Linked DNA regions of Homo sapiens. The protein of the gene in region 1 interacts with the protein of each later gene in a pairwise test. Each region holds a gene or a part of one and is shown in the gene's direction. Other genes may lie near its edges.

Region 1 (3,661 bases):
ATTTAACAGAAAATAGTAATATATCTGAGGCTGGAAAACAGTCACTTTCAAAGTAACAGATTCTATGTCTCTTAGCACATTTTCTTCACTTTGTTCTTTTTCTGTTTTTGCCCTGAAAAGTATTACTTAGTTTCAGTGTGTGTTTGCGACAGAACACAGAAGGCAATCATTTAAAATTATGCTCACATTTAGTATGTTTTTGAAAGTTTCAGATTTCAGGGCTCCTCTGATTTACATGTAGATTTCAGACATCTTCTCAGCTGGGAAAAAACAAAACAGTTTTTCCAGTTCAAGCTTATCACTAACATTCCTCTAGAAGTTGGATGTCTTGGGATCCCTGGCTTCTGAGGGAAATGATAACACAAGAGACTTACAGAGAGGAGAGGGTCAGGAAAACGCACCTGAGTGAGATGGACTTAGGAGCAGATAATCCTCCTCGGTCTTTCCTGGAAAGTAACTTGCAGTTACCACTCTTTAGCACTCGAATCCTGTGGGAATCTGTGCTGACAGCCATTTCAAAGTAGATTATAAAGTACAAGAAGGAAAAATTTAGGGAAAATATTTATGGGAAAATAAAATGTAAAGAGAGAAATATATATTTAAATGTGGTATTTTTTAAAGTTCTTCGAGTTTCACTGTGGAATGATTTTATTTAGGGTGAGGTTACAGCTTTTTAAAAAATAATATTCATAAATGTGTAGTATGGTTTAAGTCTTATACTACTATTGGTAATAATAGAGAAAAGGATCCTTAAACATTAGAGAAAAATAGCACAATGTTCTTAGTTTTCTCTATATATAGAACATGGAAGAATAAAGATATTCATTTTCTTTTTTTTCTTCAGATAGTGTTGTTTGTGTTTGTTTCAAAGTTTGTAAGTGGCATATTTCTTGAAAGTTTATTAAATCACCTGAAAAATATTCTTTTCAGGGATCTTTTCTGGAAAGATGCTTTATGAATTGATATTTCTGTATTTTTCAGAGGCTAGTTCTATAGGTAGCTTAAGATAGGAGAAAATGAAGTACTACTTTGATATTCATTTAGGTTTGTTTTCTCTAACAAACCTTATGATACTGCCTTTTTAACTGTTATTCATAAATTATTAAACATATTTTAGTGTTTCAACCAAAGAGAAAATCAATACAGTTGCCCCTTGGTATACTTGGGGGATTGGTTCCAGGACCAGTCCCATATATATCAAAATCCTAGCACACTCAAACCCTGCGATCAACTCCGCAGAACCTGAGTGTAAAAAAGTTAGCCCTCCATATACATGGGTTTTGTATTCCCTGAGTACTGTTTTTGATCTGTGTTTGTGATCTGTGTTTGGTTGGAAAAAAAAAAAAATCTGTAGACAAGTGGACCCTCACAGTTCAAACCTATGTCGTTCAAGGGTCAGTTGTTTATTTTGATTAGCCAAATTGTGTACCAGTTGCTGTTAACATTATGACACTTTAGTGTTATTACACCATGCTTAGATCTGAAAATCTAAAATTAAGGTAAGAAAGTTTGGCTAAAGCGAATAATTTCTTTTTGATTCTTCTTCTCTACACTTAGTAGAATTTGGAAGATTTTTCTATTTTAAATCATTGTTTTTTATGAAGTAGAATAGGAAGAAATTATTTTAATGATTTGGTTCTTAGTTTTCTGTTATCTAGTTATATGTTATATAGTTACACATTTATATATATCTTTTTCTGTGCCTTATTGAATTATTTTGATATGAAATACTTGGGAACAAACTAATATATATATATTTTTTTTAAATAAATGGAATTAGTATGTTTTTAACCAGTTTGCTTAAACTGCTGTTCAGTAGAATTCCAGTGTTGATTCATGGAAAACTACTAAGTAGTTATAATTAGTTAATTAGTACTCCTCAAACTTTAGAATACATAGAGTTTCTAGAGAGATCGTTAAACATAGATTCCTGGGTCTCATCCTCAGAGATTCTGATTTGGTATGCCTGAGATGGTGCCAAGAACTTGCATTTATAACAATCGCAGGTAGTGCTGCCAATCCAAATACTTTGAGTCATACGAAACTCAATGATGTTTAGTTTATGAGAATGTTCAGACCTTAGAAAACAACAGTTAATTATTTGTGCTTGAGGTTTTTCATTATATGTTTTATGGTTCTATGTGACATAAATATAACCTAAAAGAACAAATTATGCTTTGTTACTGTAGGGAAGTTCACATTTTTACCCTGCAGTTTTGATAATTTGAATCTATAAAACAAACTAATAATAGATTAACGGGAAAAAAAAGGCATACAAATTTATTTTTTAATTTTAATTTAATTTTAAATTTAATTTTATATTAAGTTCCAGGATACATGTGCAGGGGCGTGCAGGTTTGTTACATAGGTAAAATGCGTGCCATGGTGGTTTGCTGCATCTATCAACCCCTCACCTAGGTATTAAGCCCTGCATGCATTAGCTATTGCATACAAATTTATTAATATGCATATGGGCACAGGAGCCTTACACAAAATATGAGACTCAAAAGGTGGGGGGCAGAAAGGGGGGCCAGCTGGTTCAAATTTTTATGACATCCTGAGGTTACAGAAAGAAAATGGGCTTGGAGCATGGCATAACAGGTTATTGGAGGGAGAGGAGCAAAGACTTGGTTAGGGAAGGCAGTCTTGTGCAAATGAAACCTCATAGGCAGCAACTTTCAGAAAGAATAGATGGTAGCCTGTGCTAAGTTTCTCTGTCACACCTTCAAAGGTGTCAGACCCTCAAGTCTCTTTCTTGAGAGTTAATCTTTCCTAGATCCAAGGTGGGGGGTGATCAGAGAAAGCCTGTTTGCATCTGCTGTTTTCTTATTTCCTCTACAGATGCAAATCTCCCTCACAAAATACAGCTTTTCAGGGCTGTTCTTGTGCTTGCAGCCCTTCTGATTAGCCATATCAAAATATACCAAAGAAGTATATTTTTGGTGAGATGCTCCATTCTCCTAATTTTGTATACAGAGGCTAATGTATTAGGCAGAATTTAGCCAATTAAGGAATATTTTATGTTGTGCTGTCATTATTAGTATTTTTGCTGTTTTGTTATTATAGTAATAAGCTACAATTACATTTTTTTTTAGAAAGAAGCAGGGTCTTGCCATGTTGTCCAGGCTGGAGTGCAGTGGCTGTTCACAGGTGCAGTCACAGCACACTACAGGCTTGATCTCCTGGGCTCAAGCAATCCCCCTGCCTCAGCCTCCTGAGTAGCTGGGATTACAGGCACATGCCACTGCGTATAATTACATTTGACTTGAGCAAATGTGTTAAGTAAAATTTCCTGAACTGCAATACAGATTTTACTTGAAAAATAAATTTCTAATTGTGATCGATCAGTGCTTTTTTTCTTCTCTTTTTTTTTCTTTACTTACAGGCAGTACTTAATTTTCCTAAATATTGTGAACCCGTGGTTAAAGGAGAAGGTAACTGTGTAATTTTACTCATTAATATTTATTTTGAGAAAGGTTTTTACAAGATATAAATTACTGAAATTTTCTTCCCTTTGGGGTAGCAAGTGAACGTGATACTCGCAAACTGTGGAGAAATATTGAACCTCATTTGAAGAAAGCTATGCAGACTGTTTATCTCAGGGAAATATCAAGGTAATTTTCTATTTAGTATGCATACTAGTTTTTATATCTTTATTTGG
Region 2 (3,661 bases), on another chromosome or scaffold:
TGGGCAACAGAGTGAGATTCCATCCCAAAATAACAATAATAATAATAATAATAATAATAGATAGATAGATAGATTTTTTGGCATTTATTTCCAAAAAGGCTACTTGGTGGTTTTCTTTTGTGTTCTGTTTTTACCACTTTGTAATATCACGGTTACTTTAGCACCTGGCTATAGAAGAACACAGGAGTTATGTGTTTCTGCATCCAGCAAATGTTGCTCATAAAGCCTCCAGGGCCAGGTGCCTTTTAGGGGCTAGGTCTTTGGCGGCATCAGTGATTTTGAAGATCCCTTCCAGGATGAGCTCTCACGGGTAGCAAGAGCTCAGAGCCAGCCCATGAAAGGAGGGGGTGTTGGGAGAGGGGATGTAGAGAGTCCCTTTCCCATGACTGATCCTGCCTTCTGCTCACTCTCTAGTGCAGTGATGGGATCCAGGGCAATGGGGCCTGCCTCTGCTTCCCAGACTACAAGGGCATCGCCTGCCACATCTGCTCGAACCCAAACAAGCATGGAGAGCAATGCCAGGAAGGTGGGTGGTCCTGGCTCAGGCCACCTCCTAGGGAGAAAAAACGTCTGCCTAAAGATGGGTCTGGGGGCTCTCAAGAAGGGAAACGAAGCCCCAGGAGGAGGGACGAAGGCCAAGGGGAGTGGAGGAAGATTTGCCTAAAAATGGGTCTGGGGGCTCTCAAGAAGGGAAACGAAGCCCCAGGAGGAGGGACGAAGGCCAAGGGGAGTGGAGGAAGATTTGAGAACAGAAAGGAGATGCTGTCTGCTTCACCCAGGCCAGGAAGGGAACTGTGGCTTAAAGTATGCGGGACTTAGGTCAGACACACTGAAGAACTTCCTGATGGTGGTGTTGGGATCAGGGCAACTAGAATGGGATAATTGAAAGCTCAGAATGCCCCCCTCACATTTCATCTGCCTGCCCATTGAGTCTGAGATAACCTCTGATTTTTCCACCCTGAAGTCAAATCTGTACTGGCTGCCCCACTCCCTATATCCCCCAAACCCATCCTGGCTCCCAGCCAGCCCTGCCTCCTGCTTCTCAGTTTCCTTGCTCCCATCTACTCCATACAGACTGCGGCTGTGTCCATGGTCTCTGCGACAACCGCCCAGGCAGTGGGGGGGTGTGCCAGCAGGGCACGTGTGCCCCTGGCTTCAGTGGCCGGTTCTGCAACGAGTCCATGGGGGACTGTGGGCCCACAGGGCTGGCCCAGCACTGCCACCTGCATGCCCGCTGTGTTAGCCAGGAGGGTGTTGCCAGGTGAGGACCCACACCTTCTGTCTGCCCCACCCGTGACCTTTCATACCTGAGGCTCACTGGAGCCCCCTCCTTCACCCACCCCCAGATGTCGCTGTCTTGATGGCTTTGAGGGTGATGGCTTCTCCTGCACACCTAGCAACCCCTGCTCCCACCCGGACCGTGGAGGCTGCTCAGAGAATGTCAGTCCCCTTGCTCCTTCCCTGAAGTTCTGACCCAGAGGCAGGAGGTGGGATGCCCTGGCCCTCTGCCTACGTTCTTGTGTCCCTCAGTTATTTATCCATGGCTCTCACAGGCTGAGTGTGTCCCTGGGTCCCTGGGCACCCACCACTGCACATGCCACAAAGGCTGGAGTGGGGATGGCCGCGTCTGTGTGGCTATTGACGAGTGTGAGCTGGACATGAGAGGTGGCTGCCACACCGATGCCCTCTGCAGCTATGTGGGCCCCGGGCAGGTGAGGTGCAGCAGAGAAGGGGTGGGGGCCTTGGTTCTGGGGGACTCTCTCCCTGCCCCATCTGACTCCTGGAATGCAGAGTCAGGTGCTCAGGGTCTGGAGCCTCAGGTGCAGATGAGAACCCAGTGCTGACATGCTGAGTAGTAGCATCTGGGATTCGCTCCTTCATCCATTGGCTCATTGCTTTCCCAGGTGTTTTCAGGCACCTATTCCATGCTAGTCCGTGTTCTAGATGTAGGGAATGTGATACTGAGCAAAGCAGGAAAAGCCCCTGCCCGTGGGAGTGACCTCCCCAAAACTTTAGCCTCATGGAAATCCAGCCCCGGAGCTTTGCAGTGTCTGAATCTAGTCACGGGAGCTCGGAACCTGGAGCCTTCCATGTGGAGCATTTCAGGACTGGTGAACCAGTGTTTGGACAGGCATTGAAGACTGTCTAACGCGCCAAGTGGGAGGCCAGGCCTGGCTGGTCAGGGTCAGCCTCTGCATGGCCAGGCCTGTGGGGCTCCCTGTCCTCCCAACTCCAAGGTGGCCTCTGGGCACCAGCACGTGGGGCCTTAGCAGTAAGAACTGACAGGTGTAAGAGCTGGAGCTCCAAACCCCATTAGGGCCTTAATTCAGAACAGAGGTGTTGAATGAGCCAGTGAGATGCTCCCAACGTGCAAACAAGGGCACCTGAGAGCTGAGGGGTCTCGCTGGTCACTCACCTGCAGTGTAGACAAGCCCAGGGACACTGGCATTTGGTTGGGGGATTAGAGCAGCTGAGTAGGGTGGCAGGGGTGGAGGTGGGATCTAAGCCACTATCCTGGGGCTGGCCTTGGCAGGTACCTACACACTTGCCACAAGCTGTTGGCCTCAATGGCCCTGGCAGGGCCCCAGGCTCCAAGTGCAGGAGCACCAAGTCTCCACGGATGCTTCTCTGCAAATGCTCTCACCTCCGTGGACTCATCCTGAGAGCCAGTCTCCCCTTAGGGCCTCTGTCTCCCCATCTGGAGCACAGATCTCTGAGAGGAGGGCTGGGAGAAGTTCCTCTGGGGTCTGGGCAGACCTCCCTGGGGGCAGTGACCAGAGAGAGCCAAGTAATGGAGGAAGAAAGGGTTGGATGCTCATCATGAGACAAGGCCGTCTGTTCCTAACCTTTCCAGAGCCGATGCACCTGCAAGCTGGGCTTTGCCGGGGATGGCTACCAGTGCAGCCCCATCGACCCCTGCCGGGCAGGCAATGGCGGCTGCCACGGCCTGGTAAGGGGGTGCAAGGCTCAGAGCCCTGGGGAAGCTTTCTGGGGTGAGCCTGGGCTGCAGCTCTCTCCCTCCCTCCCCATCTCTGGGTGTCTCTCTGTACCCCCTCAGGATTAAGATCTTTCTAAACTTCAAATCCAACCATGTCACTCCTCTCCCCCTTCACCCGCCCCTGCCCAGCCTCGTCTCTCTGTTCCACTCCTGCCCCACTTCCACTGTCCTTGGCTACGCTGAGCTCCTCACCATCCCCTGCCCTTGCTCCACTGTACCACACTCCTGCTTCTGCAAGCTGCACCTGGGCCTGGCTAGCTCCTCCTGCTCTCAGCTCTGGCTCCTGGGGATACGGGCCTCCTGGGTCCTCCCACAGCCCTGAGCTCCCTCGCATCCACCTGGCATGGGTAATGCTTGTGTCAAATGCCCAGTGTCCTGGAGAGCAGGGCTAGGCACACCGAAGGAGTGCCACCAACACAGACTGGGTGGCTGCAGAGCAAGGGGCAGGGGCTGGGGCTGGGTGGCTGGACAGGCAGAAAGATGGGGGAGGGAGGGGCCCAGCTGCCATCTGGTTCTGAATGGAGGCCCTTTCTCACTCCCACCCCAGGCCACCTGCCGGGCAGTGGGGGGAGGTCAGCGGGTCTGCACGTGCCCCCCTGGCTTTGGGGGTGATGGCTTCAGCTGTTATGGAGACATCTTCCGGGTAAGGGGTGCTCAGACTCG
Region 3 (4,194 bases), on another chromosome or scaffold:
TAAAGAGTTGTGAGAAAGGTTGGATATCATAGAACCCCCAGAGGTTAGGAATTCCTTGAGTGGTAGTTCTAAACATTGTATGTAATTTTCACCTTCAGAGTTTAAGACACAGACAAAAAGAATCAGAATACATTACGTAGATTGGAGTGTCCATCTCTTTTAAAAGTTCCCTAGGTAGTTCCAGTTCTTAGGAAGGGTGGAAAACTTCTACGATAGGATGTTTGTATGAGAGGATGGTAGTGGTGGTGATGGTGTTGAGTAGGTTGGTAGGAGAAAGGCCAGATAGATCAGCAATATCTGCTCTGAATGTGAACAGGTGGAATGGTAAAAATATCATTATTAATTGCTATCTTAGGGATGGAAAATGAATAACTTGTCCAAGGTAGTTGGATACCATCTTGAAGAGCTGGCAGAGTGCTGACGCTACCTTCCATTAAGAATAAACATTCATGAATTTTCTATCTCAGATGCTCTTTTGACTTAAACGCCTTATGGTCTTTTCTTATAATTAAAGGCATTAAATTCATATGTGAAGAATGCATTCATGACAGCATATTTAAATAATGATCTAAACGACTTTCCCCAATACTTTACAATAGACATAAGTATTTTTGAAACAGCTTTAACACAATCGCTGCCTATAAATAGGCGCAGAGAAGAGTTTGATAACTTTTTTAAAGTAGCAGTATTTTAAAATAGAGTACACACAACCCAAATTCGCATGTGTAAATAAATAGAATGCATGAAAAGAATCTGAATGTGAATCACTTCCCTTAGTTATTTATCCATTGTTTTGATGCTGTCCTAAGACCCATTTAAAATAAGGCATCTTTCTGGTGGGTAACAAATTCGTAGTCTATCAAGCTGGGATCCCACTAACATTGGCCAAACTGCTGCAGACATGAAGACTTCATCTGGGAACCCGAAAGGAGAACTCAAAATCCAAATCTTCAGACTTTCTTAGGAGAAGCGTGGAAGTGGGAAAAGGAGAAATTCAAACTCTGCTTAATTTCAAAAGGGCAGTAAAAGGGGAGGCTGCAAAGGCTAGTTTACAAAAATAGACGTCGAGAACTCCTAGGGAAGCAAGTAGAAACGGGCTTTTTTTGGGGGAGGAGACATTTGCAGCCCATTGGACGGATTCCCCGCCGCCCTCCTCCCAGAAGGTCCCCACTCCCCGCCCCGGGCCCTCCCCCGGCTTCCGCGCTGGGCCGGGAGCCTGGGTGGGCGGGGTAGCCTCTCTAGCCTTGCCTTCTTGGCTGGAGGCACAAAGGCATTAACTTAGCGCCCGGGGTCTCTGCCAGGCTCACGGGACAGCTGCACCTCTCAGCGTCTCCAGCTCCAGGACGCGGTCGTCCCAACTCCTTCCGAGTGGAAAGAGTGTAAAACTTTTGTCCGTGCGCGGGTGGAGCTCAGTAGGACCACGGCGCGTCCTGCCCCGGCTTCCCCAGCCTCCCAGCAGGGTTAGCTGCGGTCAGCGCACTTTCCACTTGGGACTCCCGGCCAGAAATTTCTCGGGAATGGAGCGGTCACAGTGTGGCAGCAGAGACCGAGGCGTTAGCGGCCGACCTCACTTGGCCCCTGGGCTAGTGGTGGCTGCCCCTCCGCCCCCGTCCCCGGCGTTGCCGGTACCATCGGGGATGCAGGTTCCCCCAGCGTTCCTGCGGCCGCCCAGCCTCTTTCTGCGAGCAGCGGCCGCGGCCGCCGCCGCCGCTGCCGCCACCTCGGGAAGCGGAGGCTGCCCGCCGGCTCCCGGGCTGGAGAGCGGGGTAGGCGCGGTGGGCTGCGGCTACCCGCGGACGCCCAAGTGCGCCCGCTGTCGTAACCATGGTGTGGTGTCAGCGCTCAAGGGCCACAAGCGCTTCTGCCGCTGGCGGGACTGCGCGTGTGCCAAGTGCACCCTGATCGCCGAGCGCCAGCGCGTCATGGCCGCCCAGGTGGCGCTGCGCAGGCAGCAGGCGCAGGAGGAGAGCGAAGCCCGGGGGCTACAGAGGCTCCTGTGCTCGGGGCTCTCCTGGCCCCCCGGTGGTCGGGCATCCGGGGGCGGCGGCAGAGCCGAGAATCCACAGTCCACGGGCGGCCCTGCGGCGGGGGCTGCGCTGGGACTGGGTGCCTTGAGACAGGCCAGTGGTTCCGCGACCCCCGCTTTCGAAGTTTTCCAGCAAGATTATCCTGAGGAAAAACAAGGTGAGTTGGTCTTTGATTTACTCTTTGCTCAAGGAATGGTTGTTCTGGAAAGAAACTCTGAAACAAGCCACCGTGTCCATAGGCGGGCAGGAATAGTTGTTTAAAAGAAACACTTTAAGTTTTGGGGAACTGCTCAGCAATATGGACATTAATGAGAGTGTGAGAGACCCCATCGCCTTCACTTTGGAGGAATTTACTGTTGTTCCCTCAGGTGATAGGATGAGATAATGAAAAAATGAAGCATGGGTGGTAACAAATGAGCAATTCACCCTAGGAGTAGAGTTATTTACTCGGAAGTTGATTTGACTTTCACTGTGTGAGTAGAACTTCAAGCAGGCATTGAGCGAAAAGCTTCGTAAGAGGTGCTGTGTTTGAGTCTGCTCTGTACTCTTTCCAGACAGGATCTCACTCTGTTGCCCAGGCTGGAGTGCAGTGGCGCCATTACAGCTCACTGCAGCCTCAACCTCCCCAGGCTCAGGTGATCCTCCCTGCTCTGGACTGTTTTCAGCTGTAAAACCAGAGCTGATTTTGCGTGGGAAACTCTGATAGTTGGGGATGCAGTTCTTTACTACATGTTGGGGCAAACATTTGTTGCAAGCTTGATGTGGGGAAGAGACTGAAATCTACCAAACCATCGTCTTTCTTTGTTTCTTCACTCTAAATTGTTTTCGCAAAATGTAATTTGTAAAACCATAGGTAAGAATTTCAAAGTTCAATATTAGAGGTTTTTTATCCAAGGAGTTTTCATTATTTTTCTCTTATTTTTTGACTGCGAGTCAGTTGCCTTCATTTCCTGCGTTAGGAGATATATTTTAGTGAACTTCATAGCCCTCCACAGGGCCTACTAAGCAGTGAAAATATCATTGTGATTTTTTTTTTGTATAAGTCAAAAACTTATACAAAACTTATAAAGCTGTATTATATGAAATTGTATGATAGCTATACAGTAAACTATTAATTAGAAACCTTCCTTGAATTATGAAAATTGCAGATCTCAACAGATTTTTTCGCTCAATGGCTGCTTGAAGTTCTACTCACACAGTACATTCGAAAAATTCTGTGAATTGAAATGAGGCATTCAGTTCAGAGTGAATTTTGTGTTTGCATGTGTCAACTTTTGCACATATTCTAATTTATTTGAGTAGGCAAAACAGACTTTCTACAATTCCCATGAAAGATGAAGGTGCTAAAGAGCACAGTTATTAAGTAAAAGTGCTATGAAAGAGAAGTAAAAGTGAGAATTCCTGAAACTACACCGATAGTGAAATGGCTGACATCTCCCTGTGAGACACTGATTTATGTGATTTCTAGTTGGTACCAAAGTGTTCTGTTTTATAGAGCTAATTATTTTACTTTGTTCTTTGCCTCAGATGATGCCCCCTCCCCCATAAGAAGCAAGCTAATGTTTGAAAGGTTACTTCAATAGCTTTCTAAATTGACTGGTTCTCTTACACAATAGCCATGAACTGTGGTAAAATAGTCTATTTAATTTACTCATTCATTAGACAAAGACTAACAGTGATTTAGAAGTGAACAAGTTTTTCCTACACAGAAGAACCTTATATTCAAAAGAAGGCAGACTATATGTATCCAAAAACTACAATGCAAGGCTTAATATACAATGATAAATGCAATAGAAGTAAAGCAAGCTGTAGGACTTGAGAAGACAGAGAGACGATATAAGTGGTATTATATTTTAAAGACACCATATTTTCTAAATAATCTTATGCAAATTGGTATTTCATTACATATATTGTACTGTGAGTAAAATATAACAAGACATTATTTTATGATTTCATGCATAAATTGCTATAGAGATGAAATGTTGATAATTGACATGTTCGGGGGCATGCTCATTCATATTTACAAGTAAAGTGGAATGGAGGACTAATGCTAATCTATTTCCACTTGGCAAATTTCATTAGAAAAGTATTATTGTGTTATTTAAAGTTGAAAATCCTATAGAGTGTTTGCAATTTTTGCAGTAGTGACATTCTTTTTTTCATATGC
Region 4 (3,661 bases), about 16 Mb from region 1:
TGTGTTTGTAATTACTATTCTGATTACTTTTATAAGTCTGAATCTGTTTAGATGGAGGTGGGGAGGGCCTTAAAATATTTGTGAATAATGAAAATGTGTAGTTTATCTTGAATGATCTGAAATATTCTCCAGAATATTCATTAAATCTTTAGTTTGCTTCTCAATATAGTATAAAGAAATATGATTAAAAGTACTTGCTGATACAAGTCTCTGCAAATTATGCAGATTGTGTGTGATAGTTTAGGACAATAAATTTTTAAAGTTATTCCTTAGGTTCAGCAGTTAATTCTTTACCATGTATGTCTGTCATCAGAATCCAAACAGATGGCGATAAGTATGGTGGAACCTCAATTCAACTCCAGTTGAAAGAGAAGAAGAAAAAAGGATATTGTGAATGTTGCTTGCAGAAATATGAAGATCTAGAAACTGTAAATGTGATTTTATATTTTGGGGGCTTGTTTCGAAAACTGTAATACTTGTGTTTTAAATTTTAGCTTGTTATTCTGATGCAGATATTTTACATTTTAAGAACTCAAGGGAGGAAATGAGTATTGAAAATGAATTTTTATTCAGCAAATACTGAGCGTCTACTACATACTGATCACTACTCTGGGCAAACAGCATTGAACAAAACAGACTTAATTTTTTACCGTTGTGAAGATTATATTCTGTAGGGTAGGGGTGGGATAGGGGTGGAGATAGGTAACCACAGGATAAAAGAAGAATAAAAATATAGAGAGAGAATATTAGATCAGTGCTATGAAAAAATAGAACATAGGAATGGGGATGTTGCTATTTAGCCTAGACAAGGAACACATAACTGATAAGGTGACATTTGAGTAGAGACCTGAGAGAAATGAAGTAATGAGACCTGGATATTGAGATAAGTAAGTGCAAAGGTCCCAATTTAAAATGATTGATGGGACCAAGGAATAGATATTGATAGTCCAGACTAAGTGGTAGTAGAAGTGCTGAAACATGGTCAGATTGTGGATTTGTTTTAAAGGTGGGACCAAGAGGATTTGCCAATGGATTGGATGTTGCAAGTGAGGGAAAATGGTAGTCAAGGGTTACTATAGTATTTTGAACCTTAGCAATTAAAAAGTGGGCTTATTATTTATAATGGGAAGAGAAGAGTTGAAAGAAGTAAAGACCATTGAGGTAGCAGAAAGAAATGGGAGAGTTGCAAAGGGTATATAGGATGAAAATGGGGGAACTATTATAGTTTGTAAACTGATGAGCAAGAGCTATGGATTCAGGCTGCCAGGTTTGAATCCTGGCTCCCTGGCTGTGTGAGCTTGGACAGTGTTTGGCACATAGTAAGTGCTTATTGTTAGCTGTTATTTGAATAATTTTTTACGTAATAGATAGGTTTGTTTTGGTGTTTGGTTCGGTTTTGGTAGAAGATGGTGGGAAAGTTAAGGGGAAAGAATAATACTGGAACATATCTGTCTTCAGACTCTGAATTGAAGTTTGTTTTATAAACCAAAATATATTAGTGTTTTGTGTCAGTTTTTTTGTTTTTATGTAATAAACAAGAAAACTATGATTAGTCTAAAATTGCTTTTAATCAGAAGCTAAAGTATCTCAGAAATATTTCCCCTTCCTGAAAATAATTTTGAAAATTAAAATTACAGATTGGTCCTGAAGTTTTACTTTGCTGGTGTAGCAACAAAATAATCTGGAATGGATGCTTAATTTGGTTCTCAGAAAATGTCGAGGCTAAAAAATGAAAAAATTGTTCAGTGGTTGCCACAAAGAAGAAAATTAGTGAAAGCAGATGTTGAGATTAGAGGTTGGGATTGAAATTTAAGGTCATGTTTTTACAGTTTTCATTTATATGTTTCTTAGTTGCTAAGAGTAAAGACATTTTTTTTTTGAATGTTAGGTTTCATAATGATTCAATTCCACTTGTATCAAGGGATTAATTAACACATATTTTTGAGTACTGGGGAGAAAGCAACAGATAAGGCGGACATCCCTACCCTTATGCACCTTATGGTCTGGCAGTGTAGATAGATAGAAAATATGTATTTGCAAGTGTGATGAGTTTCACAAAAGTAAAGTATGAAGTGCAATGGGAATAAATAATGAGGTTATTTAACCTAGAATGAGGGTCTCAAAAGGCCCAACTGAACACAGGTGACGCTTTAAATTAAGACTTATAAGGATGAGTAAGAAGAACTTAATGGAAATTAGAGGGGAACTAAATAAAAGTTGGAAATTTTTCCTTCCCAGAACATTAACAGAGTGAATCTGAGCTTACAAGATTTGATGCTTCCTTTTAAATTTTGATAATTCTTATTTTTATTACTGGGCATATATAATTTGTATATGGTAAAGTTTGCAAGTAATGAAGGAATACATGTATATTACAGGATGCTAGTTTTTAGAAATGTAATAAAATCATCAAAATGTAAAATTGCATGAAACTAGGGAAATAGAAATTAGGTTCTTTAATGGTCATCTAGAGGAAGCTTCTAAGTACAATTCCCTCCCTGATCAGCTGACAGACAAATAATAAAGTTAGGCTGGAGATTCCACCTATTCACAAGGAACTTTGTTTCCTGTGAATTTTATCTCACTTTGTTGTGAACTTGTTTACTTTTGGTTTTGACCACTCTTTTTGTTTTGTTTTTTGTTTTTATTTGAGATGGAGTCTCGCTCTGTCACCCAGGCTGGAGTGCAGTGGTGCAATCTCAGCTCACTGTAACCTCCATCTCCCGAGTTCCAGAGATTCTACTGCCTCAGCCTCTCTGGTAGTTGGGACTACAGGCATGCGCCACCACGCCTGGCTAATTGTACTTTTAGTAGAGACGGGATTTCACCGTGTTGGCCAGGAGGTCTCGAACTCCTGACCTCAGGTGATCCGCCCTCCTTGGCTCCCCAAAGTGCTAGGACTACAGGCGTAAGCCACTGCGCCCAGTGGTTTTGACTGCTCTTAAGAATGAGAATAACTTCTGTATACTCTGTTATGAGCACTGGGTAATTGAGATCATTTGTTTTGGTCATTCCCAAATGTGTTCTTCAATTACGAATCTTGGCTTTTTTAGTACTTCACAGCATTTAATGTGGTTCATGTGTTTAATCTACTTTCTGGATTCTTTTATGTTAACTTATATTTCATTCATTTATTATTCTATAAGCTCTGCCTTATTTAGTGATAATTGCATGAAGACAAAGTAATAGAGGGAAATGTGTTTTCCAAAATGTTACTGTTGTCTCTCTCTCTGTATCCCTTTTTTTTTTTTTTTTTTTTTTTGAGACGAAGTCTTGCTCTGTTGCCCAGGCTTGAGTACAGTGGTGCCATCTCTGCTCACTGCACCCTCCACCTCCTGGGTTCAAGTGATTCTTCTGCCTCAGCCTCCCAAGTATCTGGGACTACAGGCATGTGCCACCAGGCCCAGCCGATTTTTTGTATTTTTAGTAGAGATAGGGTTTCACCATGTTGGCCAAGCTGGTCTCAAACTCCTGACCTCGGGTGATCCGCCCACCTCGGCCTCCCAGAGTGCTGGGATTACAGGCATGAGCCACTGCGCCTGATCTGTGTCTTCGTTTTCTGACACAGCTCATTCTTTTCAGTTCCATTGTAACTACAAATTAGTACTTGTCTTTTCTCACTGAAGACTAAAAACCAAAGTAGTTTTACTGGCTTCTCAAA

The links.
Region 2: the proteins of ORC5 (region 1) and STAB1 interact in a two-hybrid assay, tested with the Homo sapiens proteins (one large-scale study listed by BioGRID and IntAct).
Region 3: the proteins of ORC5 (region 1) and DMRTA1 interact in a two-hybrid assay, tested with the Homo sapiens proteins (one large-scale study listed by BioGRID and IntAct).
Region 4: the proteins of ORC5 (region 1) and DBF4 interact in a two-hybrid assay, tested with the Homo sapiens proteins (one large-scale study listed by BioGRID).

What each region holds. Positions count from the first base shown.
Region 1 is NC_000007.14:104,183,896-104,187,556, reverse strand, and holds part of ORC5 (origin recognition complex subunit 5), read left to right. Parts: exon of another isoform or gene 1-3,344; intron 3,345-3,385; coding exon 3,386-3,434; intron 3,435-3,523; coding exon 3,524-3,614; intron 3,615-3,661. UniProt on the Homo sapiens protein: Component of the origin recognition complex (ORC) that binds origins of replication. DNA-binding is ATP-dependent. The specific DNA sequences that define origins of replication have not been identified yet.
Region 2 is NC_000003.12:52,508,796-52,512,456, forward strand, and holds part of STAB1 (stabilin-1 precursor), read left to right. Parts: intron 1-414; coding exon 415-526; intron 527-1,074; coding exon 1,075-1,261; intron 1,262-1,346; coding exon 1,347-1,440; intron 1,441-1,553; coding exon 1,554-1,712; intron 1,713-2,854; coding exon 2,855-2,950; intron 2,951-3,545; coding exon 3,546-3,641; intron 3,642-3,661.
Region 3 is NC_000009.12:22,445,549-22,449,742, forward strand, and holds the start of DMRTA1 (doublesex- and mab-3-related transcription factor A1), read left to right. Parts: upstream 1-1,275; 5' UTR 1,276-1,517; coding exon 1,518-2,184; intron 2,185-4,194.
Region 4 is NC_000007.14:87,900,451-87,904,111, forward strand, and holds part of DBF4 (protein DBF4 homolog A), read left to right. Parts: intron 1-313; coding exon 314-428; intron 429-3,661. UniProt on the Homo sapiens protein: Regulatory subunit for CDC7 which activates its kinase activity thereby playing a central role in DNA replication and cell proliferation. Required for progression of S phase.